Regions from separate parts of the Homo sapiens genome. Here region 1 is linked to region 2. The links come from fine-mapping of genetic effects on gene expression. A gene starts in region 2. The other region holds a variant in brackets. All regions are shown on one strand. Distances are between the middles of the regions.

The links.
Region 1: its variant is fine-mapped to the expression of GRK5 in whole blood (TOPMed, PIP above 0.99).

What each region holds. Positions count from the first base shown.
Region 1 is chr10:119,245,093-119,256,751 of GRCh38, reverse strand. The region is part of intron 1 of GRK5 (G protein-coupled receptor kinase 5); the gene reads right to left. Among named protein-coding and RNA genes, the nearest start is that of GRK5-IT1, 43 kb to the right of the region's middle. The variant A/C (reference allele first, on the strand shown) is at 6,028.
Region 2 is chr10:119,203,065-119,214,723 of GRCh38, reverse strand. GRK5 (G protein-coupled receptor kinase 5) reads right to left here and starts at 7,153. Exons shown (of 16, transcript NM_005308.3): 1 at 6,755-7,153. The coding sequence starts at 6,806. GRK5-IT1 (GRK5 intronic transcript 1) reads right to left here and starts at 6,303. Exons shown (of 2, transcript NR_186528.1): 1 at 6,074-6,303; 2 at 2,020-3,243. It also overlaps the pseudogene RN7SL749P. RefSeq lists silencers at 6,727-6,776, 6,827-6,896, 7,107-7,936 and enhancers at 8,277-8,386, 8,407-8,456, 8,567-8,646.

The DNA of each region.
Region 1 (11,659 bases), 42 kb before region 2:
ATTATGGTACGTGAATTATCTCTCAATAAAAAGAGGGGGGATGTTCCAAAGCAAAATATTCATTACCAGAGACACAGTCACGACCTCAGAGATAGAATAAAGAGGCGACGGGTGAGGGGTGGGGTGCAATAGGGGTGAAGGGTGGGGTGCGATAGAGGTGAGGGGTGGGGTGCTGTGGCCCAGGGCCTCCCCTTCCCACTCCATGTACCCAGAGAGCAGCAGGAAATACTGTGTACAGGAGGCAGCAGGGCCTGGTTGTTACTCAGCTGTGTGAGCTCCAACAAGTTTCCTACATTCTCTGAACCCCAAGGAGCCTTTCTGCAAAGAGAAGAGTAGGCCTAGAGGATGGAGGATGAGGGACCAGGGGACAAGAAGTGGCTGGCGACTACCGGAGCCAGGACTCCAGACTCCCACCTGCTGGTTTCACGCCCCCTCCCAAGCTCCCAGGCTGGTGCTGTGAGGTGTGTGGGGGGGTCCGCCCAGAGGGAAAGGCAAATCTGGCCGGGAATGCAGAGTCTCCACAGGAGTCGAGGCCACTGAAGGGCAGCCCTGCAGGCAGCGAGAGGGTGGCTCTGGGAGGCTTTCCTGGGACAGTGTGCAGTGGAGGCTGGGCCAAGACTGGGATCCTCTCCTGACAGAGGACTGTCAATACCAAGTCTCGGTGTCTTCTATTTGCAAAGGGTTTCAAACTGGTTTGCTTGAATAACTATTTTACACAATGGTTGCAATAACTTCACAGTCATATCCAAGTTACTTACTAGGAAATGGAAGTTCAGCAAAGTGAGAGACTATATAGCCCAAGCCAGCTCCTGTGTCATTCCTCCAAGAAGCCTTCCCTGGCTGCCTCAAGTGGTTGTTCCCTGGGCCCAGAGCCCTCCCTGCATCCCAGCTTCTACAACCCGGTCAGCTCTCGAGGGCAAAGCCAGGCCTTGCTCGTCTGTGTACCTACGACTGCTAGCACAATCCATGATAAATGATGGCTCGAAGCAAGAGGGCTAACTCACCACCTTGTCCCTCAAGGAGCCCGTGTCTGGGAGAATGGGCAGAAAACACACCAGGACAGGGGGCAGCAGGCATGGCGGGAACGGCCAGAGGCTCTGGAGTCTGGTGAGGCTGAAGTCCCACCTTTACCCTGACCTTGCGCAGCCACAGAGCTCTCTGAGTCTCAGTGCCTGCTCCATGACTCTGTGATAATGAGCCAGCGGTGTTAGTACAAAGTGAGCATCTGGGGAAGAGTCCACGCCAGTGAAAATCACACAAGAGCCTTTCCAAAACCACCACTCAGTCCAAACAGAAAGAGCCTCTAAGTGCAGAGGGACTCAGAAGGGAGAGGTCATTGGAGTTAGGTGAAGTCGATGTGACAAAGCTTCCTGGAAGGGGTGTCCTGTGTGTCAGCTTCCATCCTGCTGGTGACAAAGGCCCCTGCTATCTTGTGTTCCAAGTGGAAAGAGCCTGGGTCCCTGATACCCCTGAGAATAAGAGATCCACCTCTGGCCATAGCTGCTGTCCCTCCAGAAGCCTGTGCCACACCCCTCCCTGGATCCTATCTCTCCCAGCAGCTCTCTCTCCTCCCATCAGGGAAGTCAAGGCCACCTCCGGGCTTCCAAATGGCTCATCTCCTGGCCTCCTCCCACCTGACGACCTTACCTGCGCATACATACACAGAGCTTCCTGCTCTACTCTGTTTTTCCTTCTTTTTTTTTTTTTTTTTTTGAGACTGAGTCTTGCTCTGTCGCCCAGGCTGGAGTGCAATGGCGCAATCTCGGCTTCCTGGGTTAAAGCAATTCTCCTGCTTAAGCCTCCTGAGTAGCTGGGATTACAGGCACCTGCCAACATGCCCAGCTAACTTTTGCATTTTTAGTAGAGATGGGGTTTCACCACATTGGCCAGGCTGGTCTCGAACTCCTGACCTCAGGTGATCCATCCGTCTCAGCCTCCCAAAGTGCTGAGATTACAGGCGTGAGCCACCGTGCCCGGCCTGTTTTTCCATTTTTTTCTTACAAAATACATCATACATCCCAAGGTCCCTGTTTTGATATGTCTCTGCCTGTGAATCCCACCTCCTCCTGGAGAAATAGTCCAGAGTCATCCACACTCAGATTGCTGGGCTGGGCACCTGACCCAGGCCACAGAGCTGAAATGACATCCTCCGTGCCCCAGCCATCAACTCCCACCCCTTCTCCCTCCCCATACTGGCCAGAAATAAGATAGCCACACCCGCTACAAATCCCATGCACGGTTTCTTGTTCCAAGCTGCCTTTCCCATTAGGCTGTAAGCCCCCTGAGCACAAGGACCAGGTCTGCCTGTTCCCCAGTAAATCCCCAGAGTTGTTGAATGAATAAGAGCAGAGTACAAAAAAAAAAATCTAAAACTTATCACAATACACTGTCTAAAAACTAAAGTAGGGCAGAACAGAACAGACCAAACCCTTCTCTGAGGATCAAGAGACAGGATTTGAGTTCTAGCTGTGCAACCCTGGGAGGGTCATAGGTCCTCTCTGGCCCTCAGTTTCCTCCTCCTTTAAAACAAGCCACTGGGCCAAGATGACCTTTCAGGCCCCCTACAACTCAAGTACTGGATGATTCTGAAAGCATTTTTCAAAGGCGCTTAGAATTACAAGAGTCCCACTTTAGGGGACAGTCACCGGCCCAGCAGGCCTCATGTGTGGCTCATCTTTCCCCGCTGTGGTGTGGTTTGGTTTAAAGGCAAAGTCAGAGGAGACACATCAGCCCTGTTGACTAAAGCGTAATATTTTCCATCAGGTGTCACGGCTTTCTGTACTTTCTCCTTTTCCCCTGGGGAATCTCAAAAAGAGTCCATGTGAACATCTGAAAATAAGTGTGCCTCATGAAAAAGCATGCACGCACACACATGTGTACACACACACACACACACACACACACCCCTGGGGCAAAGAACCACCAGGAACCCAAACACTAAACAACCTCCAGCCCCCCACCCCAGGCAAAGCTCCAGAAGCCGTATCTGGGAGACACTGCATTTTTCTGGAATTGTGTCATCATTCACAACAAAGTTCACTCTCAGGCCTTGCATCCACCCCGGAGCTGGGCTGGGCTGCCCAGAGCCACAGTGAAAAAAGAGCTGGCCACTCACACCATTTTTATGGTGAGCCGTGACCTCCAAACGAGCTGGGTGTGCGCCGGGCTGAAGCCCTGGTTCCAGCCGTGGTGGGGCAGCATCCCGCAAGCATATCACAGCACCCTAAGCTCCAGGGCTTAGACCCAGGCAAGAGGCATGAAAAATAGAGCAGCTACACGGAGGAGCCTAAGCTTCTGATTTAAATATAAAAGGAACGGAGGGCAGGGGTGGTGGGGAGGCTGGCTTGTCCCTCTTCTCCACAGGCCTGGCAGGATCCAGGGGGCTGTGGAGATCACTGAGTTAGGAGAAGACATCAGTGACCTGATGTAATTCCTTTTCTAATGCAATGCTGAACTGGAGATAGTTCACAGATGCTCCAATCTTCCTTGCTTGTCCTTCAAATTTCGGACTCTATCAAGGGCCTCTGTAATCTCAACAGACCCTCAGATGTGAGCTCAAGGGGGCACTGGGTGGTGTAGACACCCTCTGTCAAACCTGTGCTGTCACCACTGAGCCACCAACTCTCCCTCATCAGCAGATTAGTACAGCAGGGTTGAAACCAGCCTTGAGCACTAAGGGGGCGTATCAGGAAAACCAGGGCACTGTCCCCTCTCCAGTGTGGCTAGGGGATCCTCTGTAGTCCACACTGGCCATGACCCTCACCCTTCAGGGTCCATCATTTTCCCTAAGACCACCTGGCCTTTGGAACACTTGGTTTATTGGCCCCAGGGGAGGAGGGTGACTGACCTGATACATCTGGGCAAGTTCCAAAGTTCAAAGTTTCAACCATGGCCTCATCTCTCAATTTGTTCAGGGAAGAAAAATGCTATTTATTGAGGTATCCTCTACGACCCATAAAAATGAGGCAAAAGCCACAGAGTGACCCCAAGCCCTTCACAGACACTTGCCCCCAAATCAGGAACTCAGGACTCAAAGCAAATTTAGGAAGGCCACATTTCCGTCTCTTAACAGCACCATCTTTTTCTACAAATCAGGAGAAAAATAGAAAGGTAGACTGTTCTAGTTGGAAGTCAGCTTTACGAGAAACATGAGGACCAGAAGGAAGACACTATTTGCACAAGATCGTGCTGCTACCCGGGGTAGAACTAAAACCATGCCCAGGTCTCGAGACACCCGGTCCAGTGCCCTTCCCCGCCTCTCCAGCGTAGCCCTCTGCACCCAGCTCAGGGTTCTGGCCCATCCACACGGCCCAGAGAGAGACACTTCTCCCCTACCCCCAGCCCTGGGAAAGGGCTGCACGCTGGCCCCTAGGATCCAGCTGAAAGCCTCTCCTGGCAACTTCACCCTGTCTCTGCCCTTCAGGTTCCAAAAGGAGAAACAAGACAGCTCTCTGCCCGTCGCAGGCCTGGGCTGCCCAGAGGTCACAGCACAGTGATCCATCAACTGTCAACTCCACCAGGACCTGTAGCTGGGGCTGGCAAGCTCACCCCACCCAGATGGTTTCCCTTTGCATGGCTGTCTCCAGGATGGTCCTGCTACTCACACAGCTGCCCCTATCGGCACGAGCACGCCACGCAGGCCAGCAGCAAGAGGGATGGTCAGGGAGAGTGAAGACATATGTCTGACTTAGACTTCAGTCACCTGAGCCAGAATTGTACTTGGCACATCTGTCCAGATGCAGCAATATCTCAAGGCAGGGAGGGTGGGATGAAAAGAAGAAAATCAAGTTCTAATCCTTAGTGGAAGGGCTGAGGATTGGATATGCACAGGGCGGAGAAGCAGCTTGCAAATTCTAGACCACCAAAATCGAGGCGAGTGGTTCTCAACCAGGAGCAATTTTACCCCCAAGAGGACATTTGACAAAGTCTGGAGACATTTTTGGTTGTCATAACTATGAAGCTAAAGGCCACAGATGCTGTTAAACATCATCCAACGCACAGGCCGGCCCCCATGACAAAGAATTATCCAGCCCCAGATGGCAACGGTGTCAAGGTTGACAAACCCTGCTTTAGGTGTGTAGATGCTAGAAGGTTTTTTGTTTTATTTTCTTTCCCCCAGACATCTTTCATCATCGCTTTAGAAGACAGCAAGAAAATAACGTGGGAGTATGACAATTACAACTCCAGATAAATGTTCGCAGCCTGTCAGAATGGAAGCCTGGGCTTCTTCCTCTGTTCCAGTGACTCAGTAACTGAAGCTGCGGAGAGGAAGGCCAAGGCTTCGGGAGACAGCTCCGAGTAAAGACAGGCTTAAGACAAAGTTCTGAGTATGTTCTTGAAAAGCTCAGGCATCACAGAAAGGCATTGGTGATGCCATAAACATCCAGCTTGTGCTGCCTTTGAAATCTGATTGAACAAGAAATACTCTTACAGAGCCTTTTGGTTATAGTCTGCTTTTTGTTTTAACATGGTTTTAATCAGGAAATCATGGCTCTTTGTTCCTTCAGGAAATTCTGTCAAATGGTTCACATTCCTTGTAAAGAACTACTGTCTATGCAAATTAAGATTCAGAGTTTTAAATTCAAACAGTTTGGGAGCAAGCAGCGTTTTGTTGTTGTTTCTTAATGTCAACGTGAGAAAAAAAAAAAGTGAGGGGAGGAAAGAATGCAAATGTTCGTCATTGAAAACACACACAAAACCAGAAACATTTTCCCCTCATGCACAAGGTCAGGAGTCTCTGGGTGAATGAAGCTGCTTCATGTTTTGCAGACGCGCTGATGGAACATGGGAAATACTGTTGCAAAGGCCCTCGATAGGAGAGCGTGGAGATGCCTAGAAATAGACATATCACCCAACAACGGGTTATCTATGAGAACTGCATTGTTCTCAGTGTGACTGGGCAGCACAGGCTATGGCATCGGGATATGAAAAATATAGTAACATACTCTATTACACATCCTCTTTACTCAGAGCAAGAGGAGATAAACACAGGTCATGACTAAGCCACTTTCTCCAACGTTCACTTCC[A/C]ATTTTGTGTGTAGCTCTGATCCAGTCATCAAGGTGCTGACTTAAGGAAAAAGTGTGGATGGAATATGTGGTGTAGGGCCAGGCACAGTGGCTCATGCCTGTAATCCCAGCACTTTGGGAGGCCGAGGCAGTAGGATCATTTGAGTCCAGGAGTTCAAGACCTGGGCAACAAAGTGAGACCTTGACTGTACAAAAAAAAAAAAAAAATTTAAATGAGGCTGTAGGATGCCTGGAGCCTGGGAGATCAAGGTTGTAATAGGTTGTGATGACGCCACTGCACTCCAGCCTGGGTGACAGAGCGAGACCCTGCCTCAAATAAAAGAAAAAGAAAAAGTTAAAGAAAATGACTATCTCTGACGTTGCCTTATCCTTCCTGGAATTAGGGAGAATGGCAAAGAAAGTTGTATGAAGGCCCCCACAACTGAGTTCAAACCCTACATCCACAAGTAGCTTCAGGACCTGGAGCAGGTGATTTAATTTCTCTGAGCCCCTCAGTTTCTTCATCTGTAAAATGAAAATTTACAGGTCAAAGGCTTAACACAGAAGAGACTCTCACTCAACAAACAATGAGCATGTTCTGACTGAAGGCTTTCCAGGGAGATTCACCCCACAGGTCTGGGCACAGCACTCCTAGACTCTGAAGAGCCTCTGTGGAGGTCAGAGGCTCTTTGAGGATTCAGTGTTCTTTTCTAAGCCCTAGTCCCTATCCAGAGTTGCCAAGAATGCGGGAAAGCAGAGACTCCACTGTTGGGAGCATGACTTAGTGGGGCCATTCTGGAAGGCAATTTGTTAAGACCCTTCATCTTTAAGCCCACTGCCAGGTATCTGTGACATCCTTGCACACGTGCACAAAGAGTTATGCACTTACAATAACAATGACACAGTAATAGTAAACTTTTTTGAGCATTTAAAAAGTTCAAAGTCAGCTGGACGCAGTGGCTCACGCCTATAATCCCAGCATTTTGGGAGGCCGAGGTAGGCAGATCACCTGAGGTCAGGAGTTCAAGACCAGCCTGGCCAACATGATGAAACCCCATCTCTACTAAAAATATTTAAAAAATTAGATGGGCATGGTGGAGCGCACCTGTAGTCCCAGCTACTTAGGAGGCTGAGACAAGAGAATTGCTTGAACCTGGGAGATGGAGATTGCAGTGAGCCGAGATCGCGCCATTGCACTCCAGCCTGGGCAACAGAGTGAGACTCCATCTCAAATAAGTAAAATAAAATAAAATAAAATGTTTAAAGTGTTTACACACAATTCATACATATTTGATACATGATATACCTGGTGTGTCACATAATATTTATTTGATATATGTACTAAGTAACTTAGATAAGCCTACAAAGTAGGTATTCTACATATGATATTTATTTGATATATATATTAAGTCACTTCACCCTACAAGGTAGGTATTATTAGTATCTCCTTTTTGTTTTTCGTTTTTTGTTTTTTGAGACGAAGTTTCGCTCTTGTTGCCCAGGCTGGAGCACAATGGCACGATCTCGGCTCACTGCAACCTCCGCTTCCTGGGTTCAAGTTATTCTCCTGTCTCAGCCTCCTGAGTAGCTGGGATTACAGGCACCCGCCACCATGCCCGGCTAATTTTTTTGTATATTTAGTAAAGACGGGGTTTCACCATGTTGACCAGGCTGGTCTTGAACTTCTGACCTCAGGTGATCCACCCACCTCAGCCTCCCAAAATGCTGGGATTACAGGCATGAGCCACCGCGCCCAGCTAGTATCTCCATTTTAAAGAAAAGAAAGTTGAGACATGGAGAGATTAGTAACTTGCCCTAGGTCAGAGGTCGGCAAATGTTTTCTGTAAAAGGCCAGATGGTAAATATTCTAGGTGGGCCATATGGTCTCTGTCACAACTACTCAATTCTGTGGCATGAAAAAAGCCCTAGATAATAGATCCACAAATGAGCATGCTGTTCAACAAAACAAGTTAATGGACACTGAATTTTGAATTTCACACCGTTTTCATATATTAGGAAATACTTACCTTTTTTTTTTAACCATTTAAAAATGAAAAAATCAGTCTTGCCTCACAGGCCCTACAGAAACACAGCGGGGTGGATTTGCCATGGAGGCTATAGCTTGCCACCCCCTGCCCTAGGTCACTCATCTAGTCTAAGTCCTGTTTCAAAGCCAGGCAGTCTAAGCTCCACAAGGCACATTCATAATCTCATGCTATCATTGCTTCATTTAGTATCAAAAAGAAAGGGTGAGGAAATGGCTCAATAAATTAGGAACAGAATTCATATTATGGAACGCCCTGCAGGATTAAAAAAATGTCATCTGCACATGGGCCAGTGTGAAGGAACTCTGGATGTGTAAGTGAAAAAAGCAAGCTGTACATCAACACACACATCATGACCCTCTTTTTATGGATCAAAAATAACGACAACAGCCAGCGATAGTGGCTCACTTCTATAATCCTAGCACTTTGGGAGGCAGAGGCAGGAGGATTGCTTGAGCCCAGGAGTTTGAGACCAGCCTGGGCAACATGGCAAGACCCTTTCTCCACACAAAAATTTAAAAATTGGCTGGGTGTGGTGGTACATGCCTATAGTCCCAGCTCCTTCAGAGGCCAAGGTGGGAGGATTGCTAGAGTCCAGGAGGTTGAGGCTGCAGTGAGCTATGATCACACCAGTGCACTCCAGCCTGAGACCCTGTCTCAAAAGAAATTAAAATAAAAATAAAGCTAATTACGTATTTGTGTGCATATGGATATAAACACTTGTTCACTCACATATAAACAGTCAGCATTTAGAAAGATGTCTGGAAAGATTATCACCAAATGTCAGCAGCCAGGCAGGGTGGGGGGGACTTTCATGATTGTCTGTATATATATGTGCCCCTATAATTTGAAACTTTTACATCCCAAATGCATCCTTCTATTATGTGTATCATAAAAGAAAATGATTGAGGTACTAGTTACAAGTCACCACTTGCCAACACACTTTGAGCTCTCTGAGCAGTTTCCATGTGGCCCCCTCTAAACAAAAGCTGGTTACAATTAATTATGGCAGGACAAAGACATTTTTTCCAGAGGGCAAAACAAACAAACAAACAAAGGTGGCATAAACTATAGTAAATAAACATAGCTGTGTCTCTTTGACCATCACCAGTGATTTTGTTTTAATTGCTATTAAACATGTGCATGACCTAACCTTCTCCAGACACTATTAACCTCCAACCCCAGGATGTCGGTTGTAAACAAAGCCTTCAAGGGTTTCATCTGGTGTGTGATAGTCCAGGCATAGCTTTCCTGACTACATAAACTTTAATTTATAAAGTTATTTTGGTTTGCTCCACTGGCATGAACATAGCTGAAGGGGGAGTCATCGACTGTGGAAATGAGATTTCCCTCAGTGCCAATTTTAAATCCAGCCTCCAGGTCATCGTATTTTTCTGGATGCTTCTCACAGTCACATTTTTTGTTTGTTTGTTTTACATGAAAGAGCACATTCCCTTTCCCCAAGTCAGGTTTACCATTTTCCATTGCTCTTATTAAACGTATCTTATTCTAATGGAATGTTCTCAGAGTTTCCGCCCTCCGCTGGCCTGGGTAAGAGAGGTCTGGAGTTGGACGCCCTAGGACGGACAGTCACTCAGATGCCGAGCTCCAGGCCATTGCCAAGCACCACCTCATCACAACTGCAGAAAGCAACGGGGTACAAAATCCCATCCTCGGGCCAGGGCACGGATCTGACCCCGGCATCCCAGATTCCTTCTCAGATCTGGATAGAACCCAAGAGGCTCTCAGCGAGGCCCTCTGTGCCAGTTAAAACAGCAGCTGGCTGAGGCAGTGTCTGAAGGTGCGGAAATGCAAATCCACGAGGAGACCAGCCCTTCTCAGGTGACATTCCCATCAGAGCTGTGAGGGCCTTCTGTTGACCAAACAGTGAAGGTTTTCAACCCCAAGCAACACCTGCTTTGGAAGGTGCAGGAGGGAGCTTTAAACCTCAACTAGGTATGCCATGCTAATCCCAAATTCGTGACATAATTGTACGCTCTGCCACACAATTCTAGCCGATGTCTGAACTGGGCCATCTCATTGTGGCCTCCAGACACCACTTCTTGAATGTGGCCATGACCAACATCCTTGGCAGATTAACTGGTGATAGGACATTACTTAACCCTTAACCCAAGGCAATCTTAATTCCTCTTTTGTGATGGGATCAATTTTATGTTTTCCAAATGCTTCCCATTACATCAGGAACAAAAAATAAACTATTATAAAATTTACATGATTTGGTATACACATACAGTCAGCCCTCCCTATCCACAGGTTCCACATCCATGGATTCAACCACCCTCCAACTGAAAACTCTTGAGGGGGAAAAAAAAAGCCGTCTGTACTGAACACATATAGACTTTTTTCTTGTCATTATTCCCTGAACAACACAGTATAACAACTATTACACAGCATTTACATTGTATGAGGTATTATAAGTAATCCAGAGATTAGAGTTTGGATGATGATGTGCATAAGTTATATGTGAATACTATGTCACTTTATATCAGGGACTTGAGCATCCATGGATTTAGTATATAAGGGGGGACCTGGAACCAATGACCAAAGGATACTAAGGGATAACTGTATATTTTTATTGTGATTTTAAAAAACACAACATGAGATCTGTTCTCTTAACAAATTTATCTTTTTTTCTTTTTTTTTTTTTTTTTTTTTTTTTTGAGATGGAGTCTCGCTCTGTCACCCAGGCTGGAGGGCAGTAGCATGATCTCGGCTCACTGCAGGCTCTGCCTCCCGGGTTCACGCCATTCTCCTGCCTCAGCCTCCCGAGTAGCTGGGACTACAGGCACCCGCCACCATGCCCAGCTAACTTTTTTGTATTTTTTTAGTAGAGACGGGGTTTCATCATGTTAGCCAGGATGGTCTCAATCTCCTGACCTCGTGATCCGCCCGCCTCGGCCTCCCAAAGTGCTGGGATTACAGGCGTGAGCCACCGCGCCCGGCCTTAACAAATTTTTAAGTGCACAGTATGATTAACTATAAGCACAATGTTATACAGCAGACCTCTCAAACTTTCTCATCTTGTATATCAGAAACTTTATACCCACTGAGCAACAATTCTCCATTTCCCTCTCCCCTGGCAACCACCATTCTCTTATGAGTTTGACTACTATAAATTTCTCATATGAATGGAATTGTGCATTATTTGTTCTTCTGTGACTAGCTTATTTTACTTACGATAATGTCCTACAAGTTCATACATGTTGTGGCTATGGCAGGATTTCCTTTTTAATAAGGCTGGATAGTATTCCATTGCACGAACACGCCACAGTTTTTTCATTTCATTCATTTACCTATAGACTTTGAGGTTGTTTCCACCTCTCGGCTATTATGAATAATGCTGCAATGAACAAGGGAGTGCAAATATCTCTTTGAGATCCCGATTTGAATTCTTTTTTTTTTTAAGAAAGAGTCTTGCTCTGTCGCCAGGCTGCAGTGCAGTAGTGCGATCTTGGCTCACTGCAACCTCCGCCTACTGGGTTCAAGAGATTCTTCTGCCTCAGTCTCCAGAGTACCTGGGACTACAGGCACACGCAACCACGCCCAGCTAATTTTTTTGTATTTTTAGTAGAGACGGGATTTCACCA
Region 2 (11,659 bases):
ACAGGGCGAAACCCCATCTCTACAAAAAATACAAAAATTAGCCAGGCATGTTGGCACGAGCCTATAGTCCCAGCTACTCAGGAGGCTGAGGTGGGAGGATCACTTGAGCCCAGGAGGTCGAAGTTGCAGTGAGCTGAGATGGCACCACTGCACTACAGACTGGGTGACAGCAAGACCCTGTCTCAAAAAACAAAACAAAACAAAAACCCCTCAGTGCCCCAGAAAATTAGCAGTTGTCTTCCAGATTCAGGTCTATCCCTCAAGTATAACCTTTTAATTATGCTTAAATCACATACTGGTCCCTCAGGCCATTGTCCAAATTCTAGGCACAGTAGAGTCAATGCAGTCTACACAGCTAAGGAGGTCACACCCCAGTCAGCCTCAGCTCTTCGGGGAAAAAAATCCAGTTCTGTTCACACCTAGTTGATCAGTTAAAAAACATCAAAAGAGACTGAGTGCAGTGGCTCATGCCTGTAATCCCAGCACTTTGAGAGGCCAAGGCAGGCAGATCACCTGAGGCCAGGAGTTTGAGACCAGCCTGGCCAACATGGCGAAACCCCGCCTCTACTAAAAATACAAAAATTAGCCAGGCTTGATGGTGGGCGCCTGTAATCCCAGCTACTCAGGAGGCTGAGGCAGGAGAATCGCTTGAACCTGGGAGGCAGAGGTTGCAGTGAGCCCAGACTGCGCCACTGCAGTCTAGCCTGCGCGACAGAGCAGACTCTGTCTCAAAACAAAACAAAAAACAAACAAAAAAACATGTAAAAAGAGAACGGCAGTGCCCAATTGCATCTTTTCAGTCATTTCACATTGTATTATCTGAGGCTGACACCCGAATGTCACCTCCGCACTGGGTCCTTCAACAACCAAATGCTGAACAAATAAATTTTACTCTTGTAAGATTTTCAGAAGCCTATTCAAGAATGGTTTCCTCAAAATGAGAAGCAGGGGTGGGGGAAGGGTCCAGTCAGGAAGTAAGGACTTTCTCTTTTAAAAGCAGCACAGTTTTCACAAAATGAAATGCTTCTTCCAGTTTTTGGATGGTAATAAAAGGAATGACATTATCTCTGCCCCCCCAAAATACATCTTTTCAATATTTAGAATATTTTTAAATAAAAATTTTCACTGAAATATAACAGGATATGTTTTAAAGTGGAAATCAACCCTATTATTTAAGGCCATAATACATTTTAATTTTTTATTTTTCTTTTTTGAAACAGAGTCTTACTCTGTCACCCAGTCCGGAGTACGGTGGTGCAATACTGGCTCACTGCAATCTCCACCTCCCAGGTTCAAGTGATTCTCCTGCCTCAGCTTTCCGAGTAGCTGGGATTACATGCGGGCACCACCACACCCCGCTGATTTTTGTATTTTTAGTAGAGACAGGATTTCACCATGTTGGCCAGGCTGATCTCAATCTCCTGACCTCAGGTGATCCGCCTGCCTCGGCCTCCCAAAGTGCTGGGATTACAGACATGAGCCACCATGCCCAGACCATTTTAGTCATTTAAAATCATGCCTTCATCCCCTTGTCTTCAATATTCTCTTCTATTCCATTCATTTATTTATTTATTTTTAGAGACAGGGTCTTGTGTGTTGCCCAGGCTGGAGGGCAGTGGCTATGCACAGATGCAGTCCCACTGCTGATCAGCATGGAGTTTTTACCTGTTCTGTTTCCCACCAAGCCAGTTCACCCCTCCTTGGGCAACTTGGTGGTCCCCACTCCCGAAAGGTCACCATATTGATGCCGAGCTTACTGCAGATACCCAATAGGCATAGTTCGCTCCAGACCAGTACTCCTGGGCTCAAATGATCTTCCTCAGCCTCCAGAGTAGCTGGGACCACAGGCTGTGCCACCGCACTCGGCTCCACCATTCTATTTTGATGTGAGAAATGGGTGCTGAGGGCTGTATGATTGAGGAAATTCCTAATTATCTTCTCAATGTGTCACCTGTTGGTAGTCACTTTCTGTTTTCTCAAGTTTCACCTCTGAGTTGCATGACCTATGACAATAATGCCTTTTGGTAACCAGAAGACTTTTTTATTTCAAAAATGTCTAGACATTATAATGCTTTATCTTGCACTCCAAACATATTGGCAACAAATATTAACTTTGAATATTGCCCACAGTCCTGGATAGTTTTATTTAAAACATCCCAGATATGGATTGAATAGCCCTTGGTAAAGGTGAATTTGGTTAAACATTGAGCCCGCTCCTGAAATTCACTTGGGCATTCTGGAAGTCTTCAGCCCAGATCCAAAGGGTATCATTTAGCAAGCCACTATAAGAGTTATAGCTTCTGAAGACATAATTTAAACAAGGATTAGTTTGGGCACTGGAAGAGTCAAGCACTTTGGAGTTTAGAATCTGACAAGCAGCAGCTAAGCTACTGAAAGATGAGAGCCTTGTGGGCATTTATCTGATGGTTTTTCAAACAGGCAGCCAGATTAACTACAATCATCGTTTGAAATCTTTAAGAAAGCAAAAGGCCTTCTGAAAACATTGCTTTTGGTTTCTCTACCTCCAAGTTGTCAGTACTGAAAAGGAAACTTTAAAAAAAAAAAAAGAAAGGCAGTTTGATTTAACGGCATTGTGTTTAACAGGCCAGGCTGCTTTTACACACACCGAGCTGCCTTAACCAGGATGAAAGCTGTCGCTTGGTAAGATTAACATTAAAATTGAAGGAGAAGCTTCAGGGTGGAGTACGTATGCCTCCACGTATGCCTTCACATAGCCATAAGAGGGCTTTGAGCTTCAGAGATGTTCCAACGTTCTAATAACCTAATTCACCATGTTTTGGTTTTATCACCATGAATTAGGGGTGCAAGGGAAAGAGGTCCAGGGCTTTCAGCCGTGCTGTGGAATGTTAAGTCTGTCCACGCCATAGCCTGCCCCACGCAGAGCTGGATGCTGGCTCACTCCTTCTTCCTGCCCTCCCTAACCTCTTCCAGGCCCCGAGGTGCTAATCTTGATGATCAGGAAGATCCAGCCAAGTCACAGAGTTACCTGAAAAAACGGTTCCTGTGTATTCTAATGTTTGGCAATTGTGACAAATGACAAAGTTGTTCCAGTCCTAACTTCTCAATTCCTGTGCTTGCTAGGGCCTCAGGAAAATGTGATCAATATTCCTTCAGGTATCTTTTTTGATCAGATATGGCTACTGCTGGCCTGTGAAGAAAGGAAAAGCGGGGCCTTGCAAAATTTTTTCTCACCACTGTTCACTCAGAAGAAAGGCAACAGATCTAGAAGATGAGAAAAACACAAAAACCTTTACTGCAACAATAAAACCAAAAAGAAACACACAAAAGGCACTCAGCAAACTCTCCTTCTCATTATTATTTCAACATTAGGTCGCCTGCCAATTTTCTGAGATTCTGAAATGTAAATAAATAGATAGAGTTAGTCTGGGCCTCTTTTTCATGAAATGCTTAATCACTTAGCTCATTCCCATAAATTGCCATGAATTCAGTCTCAACTTCTTTCTTTTTTTCCTTAAGCACTTTTTAGGAGAGCAATCTAAAGTTCCTAAGAGTGATCGAGTTGATGTTTTCTCATGAGACCCAGGACAAATAAACAGGCCCCAAAATACATTTCCGTGGTTCAAAATCTTGAACCCATACCTCTACCTTTTCTTATTTTAAAATAATTATCACAAGTGTTCATGAAGCTTGCTTGCTATATTTTCTAATTACTAACAATCCATCATTTTACTCTAATCCACTTACAGGCTTTCTATTTTATTGCTACATTAATGCTTTCCACTTTATATTATGTCTTATTACGGTAAGACTTTGAAGATACAGTGAATTTAGGAGCCATCTGTCTTTAATGCAAAACAAAAAGAAAAGATAGGTCCCAGTGTTACCCACCAACATGGACAACTACAAATTATTTTACAGCATTTTCAAAGTGTGCCTGTCTTTCTTCAAGGTCTGTTTCTCTATTGTTTGGGACAAATGTGACTTTTACTTGAAAGCCAAATTTTAAATTGCTTACGGTGTATTTTGTTAAGTGAACTAAATTAAATTTCACATTTGCCAATTATATTTCTCATCTGTAACCACTGACAAGAATCTTTAAGAAGTGTTTTTAAACCTTTTAAACAACTCAGATTTTTTTAATATACTGTTTTATATTAGATATTTCACTAAACTGACTGAAGATTTCATTTCTGAATATTTAGATAATATGGTTATTTGGAGAACTACTAAGTTTAGTAAAATAAATTCAAATATATGAGAACTGAGAAGAGAAACATAAATTGCTTTAATTTCTAAAAGTGTCCACACTAATTAGGATATATGGGCTCAAGTCTCTAATAAAGGCCCAGCCAAAAGAAACTGGAAGCACTTAAAATCATGGCTTTCCTCTAGGCATAAGAGAGAAAGAAGGGGAGAGATGCAAATTGTAAATGAGGTTTCCATTAAATGATTAATTTTTCTTGTTCACGTGTCAGTCTCTCCCTGCTTCCGCAGGCCCTCTCCATTTCCAAGGCATCATCAAGAGCTATTTTCTCACCATGAGATGACGACCAAACTCTCACAGCAAAATTGAAAAAGCCTTTAAAAGGAAAAAAAAAAGTGAAAGGCACATTCTTGAGCACTTTCAATCACTGTAATTCTGCCCCAATGGGAGTCGGTCACTCCACACAAGCTTCCAGCCTGCAGCTCTCTTCTCCAAGGCTCTGGGAAAAAAACCCAATTTGTTGGCCTAACGAACAACAATATCAGACAGTAAATTCACGTTGGTGAAAAAATACTGGGGAGAACAATTTGGAGGGGGCGGGTGGAATTGATATCACTTTGCCCACTCTAAGCAAAGCATTATAAAAGAAGCAACCAAATGCTCAGGGAAGAAAAAAAGCATCTATCAGGCAAACAAATATCTACAGCAGCAAATGTCGGGGGCAGATTCCCTGGGCAACAGGAGGAACCAGCGAAACTTGCAAGGCTCCAGTACCATCAGACCCAGTGATTTCCCAAGAAATAATTTCAGAATGGAGCGAGAGTGAAAACTTTCCCAGCCCCCGAATCCTGAGATACACAACCGTGTCCCACCACTAGGTGGCCAGCTGCAAAGGCTGAAAGAGGGGCGGGGGAGGTGGAGGGCTGTTTTCTCTGCTTCCTCCCTTTCAGGACCATTCCCCAACCCAGAGGAGAGCCTACCAGCACCCACCTAGATCCTGTCCACTAAAAATGTCAGGTTAGGAAAAAAAAAAAAAAAAAAAAAAAAAAACCACACACACACACACAGCTCAGGCCTTAGAACCTGAAGTCACCAAGTAACAAGCCTCTCCTAAAAATTTATTCCCACCAAAGCTAAGCAATGGGAGGGAGACTAACCTGAATATTTTAAACTCTGCTGGGGTTTTCAAAGCACTGCCTCCCTTCGGGGCTTCTGAAATAAACCTTCTTGCCCACTGGCTGCTTTAGAGTGACAAGTGACGACGAAAGTAAGACACGAATGCCGGGTTGAGTTGCTGAAACGCTGCCCACGGAAGGCTATGCATCACCTACCCCCACAGTGTGTAGGGAGCCACAAGGTGATGGAACGGGCTGAATAAACACGAATCGTTTTATTGCTGGCCAGAAATTCTTCCCTTCATTCATCAAAGTAGGTGAATGAAAATATTAAGCAGGTAAGACATTTTCATGGGCTGCTCACCGAGTATCCTTCTAAACTCAAGCCCTTACTCAGTCTGCCTTCTACCTTGTATCAAATAAAGCGTTCTCCCGTGAAAGGGAAAAACCTCTTCCCCTTTTATGAAAAAGGTCGCACACTAGAGCTCAAATCTTGACCAGAAAAAAAAAAGGAAAATATGCGACATAAATTCCAGGTATTCCTAAATACATATGTTTACATGGACACAACACAATCATTTCAGGAAGCACCCAAGTTTCTGCCTCCCCCCCCTTTTTTCTGTTTTTCATCAAAAGGAAGAGTCAAAATATGCGTTCTTAGGGTTTGACTCAGGATCTTACACACTCCATTTAGACAATATTTCCTGCCAGCTAAATGCAGGAAATCTAATGATTTGCATAGAAAACGTATCTAAAGCACCAGCACACTTACCTTTCTTTTCTTAACTGAGCCAAAATCTAACAATTTCAGTTATCACACTCCCAGAAAAGAAAAACCTGAAATACTGAATTATTTTCTAGGTGGTCTGTACAGCCATCCTTTGATAATTCTATGAAAAGGCTAATTCCTCAACATCTGACTTTGCCTTTAAAAGGCTTCCTTCCACACGACGGGATTTCCCTAAGAAACATCCCAGCGGATGGTTTCCAGCAATAGTCTATATCAACTCAGCCTGCGCAGGCAAAGACTTGGCTTCTGCTCATTCCACCCCCGCCCCTCGAACACACACACCAGTTCACACAGAACCATCCCGGGCCGACTTGAAACGCTATTTTATGTGCATGTTTGCTCGTCGCTCCCCGAATGAATGCTTTTCCAACTGACCTTTCAACAGCTGCCGAGATGGCACGCTCTGCAGGGCGAGCGCTGGAAACTAGGAGATATGTTAGCATCCAAATCCCTGCAACCTTCTCAGCCCAAGTCCAGATTCTCTGAGCCCCAAGGCAGGAACCCTGAAGGGTCTGCAGAGCCGCTCTCCGAAGTGTCCTGCTCGCGACCCACTCGCCGGCAGCGGGCATCCTGCACGGGCGCAGCCCCAGCCCGCACGCCACCCGACACCCGCACCCTGGCCCGCGGCGGACGCGCCGGGCACGTACCGGCCCTGCCTCTTACCTTCCCTGGCTTTCAGCAAGACCGTGTTGGCCACGATGTTTTCCAGCTCCATTGACAGTCGGCGGTCAGCAACGGAGCCGGCCGGCGGGGCTGTCAGCGCCTGGGGTGCTGCCGCTGCTGCTGCCGCTGCTCGGGCTGCCGCCGCTGCTGCCGGAGCCGGGGGAGCCAGCAGCCCGCCTTGCCTACCGCATTATTCCTGCTCTCAGCCCAAGAGTTTCCCCCTCTGCAAAGAGGAGCCGCCGCCGCCGCCGCCGCCGCCGCCGCTTCTTCCTCCCTCTGTGTCCCCCCTCCCCCCTCCCTCAACACGCTCCCCCCCACCCCCCACCCTCCGCGTGTCTCTGTCACTCCATTCTCCTCCCCTCCGGCTCCCTCGGATGCTTTAATGCCTCGGATGCTTCTGCCTCCCCTCAGTCCCTCCCGGGGGTGTGGTACTAGCAGGCTCGGGCGGCCGCACTGCGCAAGCGCCGGCCCAGGCGCGCCTCCTGCCTCGGTGCTCGCGGCGCGGGGCCTGCTGGGAGCTGGAGTCCTCCCGGCCGCGCGGCGCCGGGGCTGAGCTGGGCTGGCGCGCGGCTGTCGGAGCGAGGACCCGCCCCGGGACGGCACCGAAAGCGAAGGCGGGCACCGCCCGGCCGACAGGCGACTCAAAGGCGGCCCAGCCAAGCCGAAGTCCCCAGCACCCCCCCGCAGGCTCCCGCTTGCCCCCTTCCCGCCCCGTCGCCAGCCCGGAAAGCGGAGTGCACGGGCCCCGGTGACGGCGCGTGAAGCGCCGCGGCCCGGCAGGAGCCAGTGCGGGTCCCGAGCCGTGCTCGGAGTGGGAGGGCTGCCAGCTCGGCCGCGCGCCACAGCCCGCTTCCTCCGGTCCGCGCCAGGCCCGCGAGGGTCTGAGTCCCGGGTCAGTGACGCGCGCCCAGGGTCCCCGCACGCGGCGGCGGCCGGCCCGGCCTGGCCCCTGCCCAGCGTCTCCCACGCGGCGCCTCGGGCCGCGGACAAAGATGCACTTTGTTTCCTCGGAGGGCGCGAAGGGCTCTGCGGGTCGGCTGCGACCCGGCGCTGGCTGCCCGCGCTGCTCTCGGTGCGACCCGAGCGCCCCCCGCCGGCCGCGGTGCGCGGCGCGGGGTCTACGCGGACGGCGCCTGGGGCTCAGGGTCCAGCGTGGGAAGCTGCTTATTCTGTGAATAAACTGCCTTCCAGCACACCCGGCCAGCAAATCCACGAGCCTCCCTGCAGCCAAACCCAGCCAGATTAAGTAATAAAAACGCAGACGGAGTCGCCGGAGTCTCCGCCGTGGGGAGCGTTAATGAGTAACAGCCAGGCCAGCGCCAAGCCGGCGTGGGATTAACGTTTTTAAATTCCGGTCTTATTTATTTTGGGGCTCTTAGCTCCTTCCAGTGTTATGCTCAGAACATCAGACTCCAGGTCTGTGCTCAGCCCCGTTTCCTTGCTCCCTCCGCTCCGAAGGCCCCACTCCTGGAAATGGGCTGTCTTCGGTCACCCGGGATCTGCCACGAGTGTCCTACAGCTGGGGGCGGGGCAGGCAGGCCCCAAAGAACAATGAGGCCTTTGCCTCCTCTGCATCCTGCGGGCCGGATATCCGTTCAGAAGCCGACTCTGGGCCTTCTCTGTCCAGAAGGAGGAAACCCTCTGTCCCCAGGGCTGCCAGGAAGTCGCAGGGAGGTGCCGAGAGAAACAGAGAACAGTTATTATGCATTGGAGAATATAAAGAAATCAATAAACCTTCCAGGCCTTGGAAACTGGTCTGGTCACTGATTGTAACAACCCAAGATTACCTGCTTTCCTGGGGGAGTATACCCACCACCACCACTTCCTGGTGTCTAGACTTGGGTCAGTGAGTCTCCCAGGGCCTCATTTATCTTGTCTGCAAAATGGGGGCAACAACAGTTTACCTGTCAGAAGGCGGAGGGCTCAGCGGGTAACTTTTCAGGCACTTACCACTCCAGGAATTACTGTTCTAAGCAATCCAGGCTTGGTCTTTGCTACATATTCACGTGCCTAGAGCCCTAACCTTTAATGAAAGGATCTCTCTCAGACAGCGAGACCCCTAAAGCTGGCAGCTCCTAGAGCCCTCCACCAACCACGCTGGTCACTTGCTGGCAGCATAGGGCCTGATGAAGCCCGAAGTTTGTTTATTCGGCTAACATAAAAAAAAAAAGAAAGAAAATTTTTGAATGCCTTTAGATGGCTTATGCACCTTAACAATTTTCTTGGGCCGGGCGCGGTGGCTTACGCCTGTAATCCCAGCACTTTGGGAGGCCGAGGCGGGAGGATCACGAGGTCAGGAGATCGAGACCATCCTGGCTAACAGTGAAACCCTGTCTCTACTAAAAATACAAAAAAAAAATAGCCGGGCGTGGTGTTGGGCTCCTGTAGTCCCAGCTATTCAGGAGGCTGAGGCAGGAGAATGGCGTGAACCCGGGAGACGGAGGTTGCAATGAGCCGAGATCGCGCCACTGCACTCCAGCCTGGGCGACAGAGCGAGACTCCGAACCAAAAAAAAAAAAAAAAAAAAAAAACAATTTTCTCAAAGGTTGTTTTTGTTTGTTTTTTTGTTTTGTTTTGTTTTGAGACAGTTACTCTGTCACCCAGGCTGGAGTGCAGTGGCCCAATCTCGGCTCACTGCAACCTCGGCCTCCCAGGTTCAAATGATTCTTGTACTTCAGCCTCCCAAGTAGCTGGGATTACAGGTGTGTGCCACCATGACTGGCTAATTTTTGTATTTTGAGTAGAGACGGGGTTTCGCCATAATGGCCAGGCTGGTCTTGAACTCCTGGACTCAAGTGATCCAACCCGCCTCTGCCTCCCAAAGTGCTGGAATTACAGGCATAAGCCACCATGCCTGGCTCAAAGTTTCATGAGCATACAAATCACGGGGGATCTTGTTAAAATGCAGATTGCATTTGGATAGATCTGGGGTGGTTTCTGAGATGTTGCTCTTTCTAACAAACTCCAGGGCTCTGTCGATCCTCGTGGTCAGTAGACCACACTCAGAGTTGAAAAGCTTTCTAGTTTACCGTAACTCCCTATTGTCTTATACCCAGCCCAAGTCACTAGTGATTTTATTTATCTGGCCTGTATAGACATTTAAGTTTTCCATCCTGGGAACCCCTGCCTCTCCCTCTCATTTTACAGATGTGAAACAGACCCAAAGTAAGTGAGTTGGCATGGTCACTCAGCAAGTTAGTGTTAGACTATTTTTTTGTCCACTACAAGCTGTTGCATCCTGCCTACACAAATACATGGTTGTACATCAGGTTTTTGTGCCTCTATGAGGAAATTCAGACACTCCAATGCAAGAATGGAACAATAATGGCTAGCATTTACTCAACACCAACTGTGGGCCAGGCTCTTGTGGTCTTTTAAATGGATTATCTCCTTGAACACAATATCCAGATGAGGTAGGGAACACAGGCCTATTTTATAGATAAAGCACCAGGTTAAGAAAGGTTTTATAGGCCGGGCACGGTGGCTCACGCCTGTAATCCCAACACTTTGGGAGGCCAAGGCAGGCAGATCACCTGAGGTCAGGAGTTCGAGACCAGCCTAACATGGTAAAACCCCGTCTCTACTAAAAATACAAAAATTAGCTGGGTGTAGTGGCAGGTGCCTTGTAATCCCAGCTACTCGGGAGGCTGAGGTAGGAGAATGACTTGAACCCGGGAGCCAGAGGTTGCAGTGAGCCAAGATCATGCCATTGCACTCCAGCCTGGGCAACAGAGTGAGACTTTTTTTTTTTCCTCAAAAAAAAAGAAAGGTTTTATAATTTGTCCAGGGTCACATAAGTAATAAGTAGAAGACCCGGGATTTGAACCTGTCAGCCTGACTCAGAGTTGGTGCACTTAATTTCTGGCTTGCGCAAGCTAGCCAGCACAGCTTGGTAGTAACTGTTCTGTGTGGCTGCCGGGATGAACTTGTATTATAAGAAGGCAAAGCACCCAGTTGACTAAATCATTAAGATTTCAAGGGGTTTTCCATTTTCATCTATAATTCCACCATTATGGCTTTATTCCTTTCAATTAACTGCACTAACAACTCGTGGTCTTCTTGAAAAATGGGTTTGATTCAAGGAAGAGTAGGCTATTAAATATAAATAGCTAAGTAGGGAATCATTGACAGCCAGCTGAGAGCAAGAAGGGAAATCCAAATGGAGGAGTGGGGGTGAGGATGGAGGGATGGGAATATGTCAAAGACAGCCAGCTTCAGACTCCACTCAGGAGCAGCTGAGCCAAAAATGCAAAAGAAGTCAGATGCAGTGGCTCATGCCTACAATCCCAGCACTTTTAGAGGCTAAAGCAAGGGTGCAGGGGATGGGGGGGTGGAGATCGCTTGAGCCCAGGAGTTCGAGACCAACCTAGGCAACATAGCGAGACCCTGTCTCTACGAAATAAACCTAAAAATTAGCCAGGTATGGTGGCACTGAGCTATGATCGCCCCACTGCACTCCAGCTTGGGTAACAGAGTAAGACTGTCTCTAAAAAATAAAAAAGCAAAAGAAACAGGGAACCTTCAAATTCTTCTCTCAGCACCTGTATCTGCCATGAATAAAGCTGCTGGGTCAGAGTTCTTGTAAATAGAAGTCTACTATGCTGGAAAGCCACAAACCTATCGGCCTTCTAAAATATAGATTCCTTTTGCCTGAATAATCAAATTGGCTTTCTGAATAGTCCAGGAACTGGAGTTTCCATTCCTTTCCTTGACTCAAAGCTTTTTAATCCTCAGGAAGCAGCTGCAGATAGAGCTTCCATTCTCTCATTTATCCTCTTCTCCTTCAGAGTTTACCTTTCTGTGTCCAGCCCTGCAGGGAGTTCAAGGCAATTTCCCAGGGAGCTCGCCACTGGGAAGGAAAACACACCGGATGCAAACAACCTCCATACAATGGAATAAGGGCCA